Homo sapiens: one gene and its partner. The protein of the gene in region 2 purifies or fractionates together with the protein of the main gene of each other region. This does not show direct contact. Each region holds a gene or a part of one and is shown on either strand. Other genes may lie near its edges. The genes, in order: CA12 and SLC7A10.

Region 1 (3,812 bases), on a different chromosome or scaffold from region 2:
GGGCTGCCAGGTTGAATACAATAGAGCCCCTGCTCATCCAAGCTGGCATTCTAGCGGGGAAGAATTTAGCAAATCTGCGGGGCCACCCCAGGTGGGAAAAATTAGTGTCTTACTGACCACAGTGCCAAGTATTATCTTGGTGCAAAAATAATTGCGGTTTTTGCCATTCCTTTCAGGCAAAAACCACAACTGCTTTTGCACCAACCTAAATAGGTCTTTGTGGCTGCTGGCTTTGCAAGTATGACCTTCCTGAAGAGAAACCCCTGAGGACATTGACTCTTGATACCCACATTTAGAGTAACTATAGAACCCAATCTGATAGGGATGATTGACAAATGTTAAATAATTATAGGCCTGGAATCACAGAGTGAAGTGCAGAGTTTAAGCTGGAAAAAAATATGACCACACTATAAACTAATTATTACAATATAATTGACACACTATCAGTGAAGAGGAACAGACTTTAAAAAAAGAAATTCCTCCAGGGCTCAAGCTTCTTGCTAACTACCAGATAGCAGTTCCTCCCCTGGAAATGAAAATAAACATGCTATGTGCAGATGAACTTTCCTACTCCCACAGGGAAAAAGTCTTTAAAGAATGTAAATCTATGTTTAAAAGATTATCTCCACGGTAATTAAACAGACTTTCAGGCCAAGGTTTCTCCAGAAAAGCAAAGAATTGGCATGTCATGGCTCGTTAGGGTAGACCCAGGGTGTCCTGTGGGCTCTATCAGAGCTGGGGATCAAGCTTTGCCATCTGGGGGTCCGTTCATCAGTATTTCAACACAAGGAAGGTGGGTAAATAGAGAAAAGGGGAAAGGAACACCACCTCTTCTGGGAATTCTTCTGTAGACCCCTGCACTGTTTCACAAGGGTGTAAATGTTATATTGGCCCCACAGAATCCCAACCCCCTACATCGTGCTCTCTAACTAGGGGACCGTATCTGAGAGTGGGAAGAATCCGAAGTGATACTTGGTACCCAGGTTCATTTCAAATGCTATGAGGCGTTGGTCCCAGGCTTAGTTAGTTCTTACTTCTAGGTCCGGACACACACATCGGAACCCTACTGATTTTTCAGGCTGTCAACCTTAGGCTATGCATTTTCAGAAATGTTACAGCATGACGGAATTGCAGAATCTCCAGTCCAACCTTTCACTGGACACCAGTCTTCTCACTTGGGCATGGCAGAGTCTCCGCTGAGCTCTACTATTCTTATTTTCAAGGCCTCAAAATAACTCAACTACACCAAGATGGTGACTAGGGAAGAGGGAGGCTGGAGGATATCAAAGCAGGCACTCCAGGGCCAAACTGGAGTAAGACAATTATTCAGCTGGGGGCCAAACCGAATGCTTTAGGGGCAGCGGGGAGCAGAATGAAGCAACCGTGAGGCCTCATGTAGAACCCCAGGGTCAGGAAGAGACACAGCACAGGGTAAGACTCCCTAAGTGAGGCTGCCAGCCTTTTCTGTGCTCACAATACTGCCTGGGCCCACAGCCAGCAGGGCGGAAGCTGCCAGCCAGGCATGAATGCAAAAAACTCAGGAAGTAAAGAGATGCATCATTGAGAAGCTTTCTCTTTGCACACATGACTAAAGGGAACTGGATTAGAAGGGTTTTCTTTTCCCACAGTGGAGGTTCAAAAAGGTTTCATCAAGAGGGCATTTTACTGATAGCTAAACGAGAGCCTCGTGAAGATAGGGACCCCTCATCTTCGTCTCTGTGAACCCATATTATAAGTAGGGTCACGTGCCCCCATGGGCATTTAGGAAACATTTTCCCAAAGAGTGAAAAAGAACAGAGGGCTTGGGAAAATGTGACTTGGGGAATGTTTCCTTTTTCTCTTGCTCTAAATACGCTTTATTGGAAGTTAGGACCAAATAAGGTATTTGGGGGGCAGGAAAGACTAAGGATATTAAAGGCAGTAGAGTTGGTGTTGGCAAAACCTGTCTTGGAAAGAGAAGCAGCTATGTTGGACCAGGGGAGTCCAGAGAATGAGATTCCAGCATCAGCTGTCCCAACACTTCAGTGGGTTATGTTCCCTGCTGGAGCCTCCATTGCCCTTCGTGCAAATGGTGGGGGTGGTGGGCGTAGTGGTGGGGATGGGATGTGTGTGGAAGCTATGTTCTGGAAGGTTCCTTCTGGCTCTTAAGCTCTGATATTTATTAAGAATACTAGGACTAAGCACCTTCTCCATCTGTCAGGCAAATTTGAATGAGTCAGAAAGGTTGCTCATGTCAAGGCAGCTACTGGGCATGTGACAAGGTGCCCAGGGGAACCAGCTTCGGGAATGAGGGCACAGGGCACCGGTGCTCCAGGACTGGCTGGGATCAGACAGCCATCTGCATCAGGAACCTGCCCTGGTCCTGGCTGCCATCCACAGCGGAGTTCGTCCTTGGGCACCAGTCACAGGTCTGTAGGTCAGCAAGGTCAAGAAAGCCTTGTCTTCGCCTCCTCCTCCTCCTCCTCATTGTTATTATATTGTAGTAGCTTTGATCCTTATAACTCTATAACCTTACGGGGTAAGCAAGGCAGAATTGCACCATTTTATGGGTGAAAAATAGAGATTTAAGAGATTTGCCGGAAGTTTGACTTTGGCTAAGTAACAGTTACTTTGCTTGGGTCACAGGACTTATGTGTCCTTCAGTATTTATCCAGGAGATTTTGTGCACCTGGAATTTCCTGGCTTCCCCACGCTGTCCTTGAAGACAAGGACCACGGCTCATCCATCGCTGCACTTCCCACAGTGCCTGGCACAGAGTGGGCCCTCACATGTTTACTAAGCTGAACTCTCAACACCTGTTTCATGCTTGTTCCTTTCCCAGGGAACGTGCACCCACCTTAATTCCCTCATGTATTTCTTCTCCTCAAAAAAGAGGAGGAAAAATGAGATCACTTGCTCAGGTTCAAAATGTACCCTCCTAGCTTTCTAGCTTACCTGTGTGCAAATGGTTTCTGTTTGGGGGCACTAATTGAAAAAGAAATCTGATTTCTGCCCTGTAGCCTGGGAGACGGCCTGCCAAGGAAGTTCATAGGGCCCTCCCCCAGCATGTAATGGCTAGTGGGTGTCCCCGCCTTGCATAGCTGGGGACACTGTCAGAGCAGCCTCCTGTCTTTGTGGCATGTGAGAGATAGAGGTGCCATGAGGGTGGGCACCGGGACAACCAATATCAGAGGTGACAACAGCAGGCCTTTCTGTTCCCTGAGCTGTGACATGTGACTGCACAGTGCTGGCCTTATGCTGGCCGCTACACCCTGGGCTACCATTTTCCAACTCAGTGTCAGCTTTCACACTCATGCCAAGTGCTCCACTGCCAGAAATCCTCCACTGGGAGTGACTCTCCTAAAAGAAGCATTTATTTCCAGCTAAAACTTTGCCTTTGCTCTTCTGAGTTTTGACTTCGCCTCTCCAGTTGGTTGGACTCCTCCCATGATCGTGATACAGGAGGATCACGTGTCTTTCACAGTTTGTTTTTCTAAATAAAGCCAAGGCATTATTTCTTTCCTGTCTATGTGTTTTTCCTGCTCTAGGCAAAACAGAAGTGGTCAGAATTCCTGTTTCGAAAGGTAACAAGAGATTAACATGGCACAGCTCAAAATGCCTCTCGTGATTTCTGATTGGGAATTTTGAGGCCCAGGGTGTAGGACCTGCATTATCCAAGGACCAGAATGTTTTTACAGAAAATTTCAAATGTATACAATGTAGAGAGAGGAGTGGAATGAACCCCATGTCACCCAGCTTGGACAGTTTACAATTCAGAAACAGTCCTGCCTCATCTATGCTAAGCCCATTCTCCCCTTATCTACCTGGATAAC
Region 2 (3,812 bases):
CCCCCGACTTCTGGGCCTCCAGGACACTTCGAGGAGCTGAGGCCCAGCAATGCCTTTGCTTTCTGGATGACGCCCTCCGTGGGACACCTGGCCCTGGCCTTCCTCCAGGGCTCCTTCGCCTTCAGTGGCTGGAACTTCCTCAACTATGTCACCGAGGAGATGGTTGACGCCCGAAAGTGAGTGGGGCCCCCAACTGGGCCCTGGGAAGCAGCCAGGCCCTCTGGTGGGACAGGCAGCCTCTCCGCCCAGCCCCACTGCCACCCAAGGCTCGGGCTGGTCCTCGGTGGCCCACGCCTGTTGCCCTGCAAAAATGGCCCTGGGAAGAAAGCCGGGGGGCTTGCATTCTAGCCTGGCCCTGTTCTCTCTGGCTATGGACACGTCACAGCCCCTTGCAGGGCCTCAGAAAGGCTGAATATCATCATCCTGCTGTAAATAGATCCAGAGATTTGCATTTGGCCTAAAATTATGCATATACACACAATATGGTCCCTACAAATGAAGCCAATGACTGCGTCTGATGCTCGGCCAGGGATCTCGACAGTAAACCTTTGCAGCTGAGCGAGCTGGGACTGGAAAGTTCCAGGAAGACTCTGGGTCTGTGGACTGGGCTCTGGGGCCATTTTGGGGAATTTTCCAGGCTGATTTTGGCTGTATGCGATTTTATCTTTCTGCACAGACATCAGACCCTGTCCTCAGGATGTGATGGGGCCCCTCCCCCATCTCCCATCCTACCAGCCTGTGTCCAGGTGGGGGTGGGGCAGGGCAGACAACAGGGTCCCTGTGTCTCGGGCAGCAATGCTGCCCCCTTTCCTGCCCCAACATCCCCAGCAGACACAAGAGATGGAGACTATGAGCTGCTCTCGTGGCTGGGTCTCGGGGGTCCTGCACCCTCAGGAGCTGACGCTGACGCACTCCACTGCCTGTCACCAGGAACCTACCTCGCGCCATCTTCATCTCCATCCCACTGGTGACCTTCGTGTACACGTTCACCAACATTGCCTACTTCACGGCCATGTCCCCCCAGGAGCTGCTCTCCTCCAATGCGGTGGCTGTGGTGAGTGGGCCCCTGCTCGGTCCCTGGCTCCTGCCCAGGCCCCTGCCCCGGCCTTACACATGGCCTCTCTACTGTGCCCACCCAGACCTTCGGGGAGAAGCTGCTGGGCTACTTTTCTTGGGTCATGCCTGTCTCCGTGGCTCTGTCAACCTTCGGAGGGATCAATGGTTACCTGTTCACCTACTCCAGGTGACTGCACTGGGGAGACGTGGGCATGGGGAGGGAAGGCTGGGGTGCAGGTGTGCACCAGTCATGCCGTGGGCCAGAGGAAGGGACACCTGCCGGGGGAGGGGTCTGCCTGAAGCTGGGATGATGATCCCACACGGTAACAAGTGTCTGATCACAACTGGGAGGCAAAGAAAGCAAGAGGCAGGCAGGCTGGATGAGGGGGAGAACTGTCCAGTGGGGCTGCTGGGCCCGGAGCAGGAGGTCAGAGGCGACAGCTTAAGAGGGACATCAGGTCCAAAGCTGAGACCCAGGATGTGGCCAGTGCCCATATCTGTCCCCAACGCTAGGCTGTGCTTCTCTGGAGCCCGCGAGGGGCACCTGCCCAGCCTGCTGGCCATGATCCACGTCAGACACTGCACCCCCATCCCCGCCCTCCTCGTCTGTGTAAGTTGGGGGACCTGGGCCAGGCAGGGCGTGGAGGCAGGGCTACCCGGCAATGCAGGACCTTCCGGGTAATGGCAGGGGTGAGCCATTCCAGGGTGGGGGTTGGGGGTGGGGCCAGGGCTCATCCTGCAGGGGCGTCAGGAGGCAGGCTAGGGGCCAGCCGTCAGCCCCAGGTCCTCTCCCAGTGCGGGGCCACAGCCGTCATCATGCTCGTGGGCGACACGTACACGCTCATCAACTATGTGTCCTTCATCAACTACCTCTGCTACGGCGTCACCATCCTGGGCCTGCTGCTGCTGCGCTGGAGGCGGCCTGCACTCCACAGGCCCATCAAGGTGAGGCCCTGGGACAGCTGGCCCTGTGCCGGGTGCTGCCAGAGCCACCCCTGCATCCACAGTGGGCACCAGGGGCAGGTGGGATGGGAGGTGCCAGCTTTTGTGGAGTGTTGGGCCCTGCTCAGGGCTCTCTGTGCACTGAGGCAGCCATTCCTCATAGCAGCCCCATGAGGACAGAGCTTTGAATGCTCCCAGTGTACAGATGGCGAAAATGAGGCTCAGGACTGGGCACAGGGGCTCATGCCTATTCCAGCACTTTGGGAGGCCGAGGTGGGAGGATTGCTGGAGCCCAGGAGTTTGAGACCAGCCTGGGCAACATAACGAGACTTCCTCTCTGCAAAAAGTTAAAAATAAAAGGGTTAGCCTGGTGTGGTGGTGCGCACCTGTGGTCCCAGCTACTTGAGAGGCTGAAATGGGAGGATCGCTTGAGCCCGGGAGGTTGAGGCTGCAGTGAGCGGTGCTAGGGCCACCGTACTCCAACCTGGGTGACAGAGGGAGACCCTGTCTCAAAAAAAAAAAAAAATTAAAGAAAATGAGACTCAGGAACTGTTCAAGGTCACAAAGGCTGCCAGGATTTCATGAGCCCACACAAAAACAGAAGACCATAGCCTGAGCTAAAAGCAAAGCCCCCCATGTGTGTATAAATCCTTAAGTGGAGAAGTGCTCAGTGCCTGAAATGTGAAACACCAAAAAATCACTGACCTCCAGCCAAGTGCAAGCCTCAAGTCCACACGCAACCGCTGTGTGGAGCTCGGTGCCGCTGAGACTTTGAAAAATCCTCAGCAAAACTGGCCAACGGCCTGACCCATGAATTGGCCTCCAACACACTGGGCTGTCGCCAAGAGGGGGTGTAGTGGGTGCAATTGCCCTTCAGGCCTCAGCTCCCAGGGAAGGGAGGAAAATTCCCCAGACCCCCAGGGGTCGGGGGTACAGACAGCTGGAGGCCCTGCACCATCGGTGTTTCTGCTCCCCCTTCCCCAGGTGAACCTTCTCATCCCCGTGGCGTACTTGGTCTTCTGGGCCTTCCTGCTGGTCTTCAGCTTCATCTCAGAGCCTATGGTCTGTGGGGTCGGCGTCATCATCATCCTTACGGGGGTGCCCATTTTCTTTCTGGGAGTGTTCTGGAGAAGCAAACCAAAGTGTGTGCACAGACTCACAGGTGAGCCGGGCAGCTGCAGGTCACCCAGCACAGGGGGCCGGGGCCTGGAGACCAGACCTCCCTCTTAGAGGCTCACCCCAGAGCAGGGTGTCCTAGCAGCTGAGGTGGGAACACAGGGCCCAGCCGCCACCAAATGTCTCTTCCCAAGATGTACCCAAAGTTTCCAGAACCACGGGTACCGACGGAGCAACTCCCTGAAGACCCCTGCCCAAGGGGAGGTGTCCGGAGCTGGGGGTCACCCCTATCCCGAGAGGTCAGGCCCCAAGGTCCATCTGTCTGTCCTCAGAGTCCATGACACACTGGGGCCAGGAGCTGTGTTTCGTGGTCTACCCCCAGGACGCCCCCGAAGAGGAGGAGAATGGCCCCTGCCCACCCTCCCTGCTGCCTGCCACAGACAAGCCCTCGAAGCCACAATGAGATTTTTGTAGAGACTGAAGCAGTTGTTTCTGTTTACATGTTGTTTATTGAGGAGGTGTTTTGGCAAAAAAGTTTTGTTTTGTTTTTTTCTGGAAAAAAAAGAAAAAAGATACGACTCTCAGAAGCCTGTTTAAGGAAGCCCTAAAATGTGGACTGGGTTTCCTGTCTTAGCACTGCCCTGCTAGCTCTTCCTGAAAAGGCCTATAAATAAACAGGGCTGGCTGTTCGCTCGTGC

Evidence for each region.
Region 1: the proteins of SLC7A10 (region 2) and CA12 purify together in Homo sapiens (affinity purification with mass spectrometry; one large-scale study listed by BioGRID and IntAct). This does not show direct contact.

What each region holds. Positions count from the first base shown.
Region 1 is NC_000015.10:63,347,077-63,350,888, forward strand, and holds part of CA12 (carbonic anhydrase 12 isoform 1 precursor), read right to left. Parts: intron 1-3,812. UniProt on the Homo sapiens protein: Reversible hydration of carbon dioxide.
Region 2 is NC_000019.10:33,208,656-33,212,467, reverse strand, and holds the end of SLC7A10 (asc-type amino acid transporter 1), read left to right. Parts: intron 1-22; coding exon 23-176; intron 177-930; coding exon 931-1,054; coding exon of another isoform or gene 1,055-1,139; coding exon 1,140-1,243; coding exon of another isoform or gene 1,244-1,569; coding exon 1,570-1,666; intron 1,667-1,851; coding exon 1,852-2,001; intron 2,002-2,982; coding exon 2,983-3,160; intron 3,161-3,446; coding exon 3,447-3,577; 3' UTR 3,578-3,804; downstream 3,805-3,812. UniProt on the Homo sapiens protein: Associates with SLC3A2/4F2hc to form a functional heterodimeric complex that translocates small neutral L- and D-amino acids across the plasma membrane. Preferentially mediates exchange transport, but can also operate via facilitated diffusion.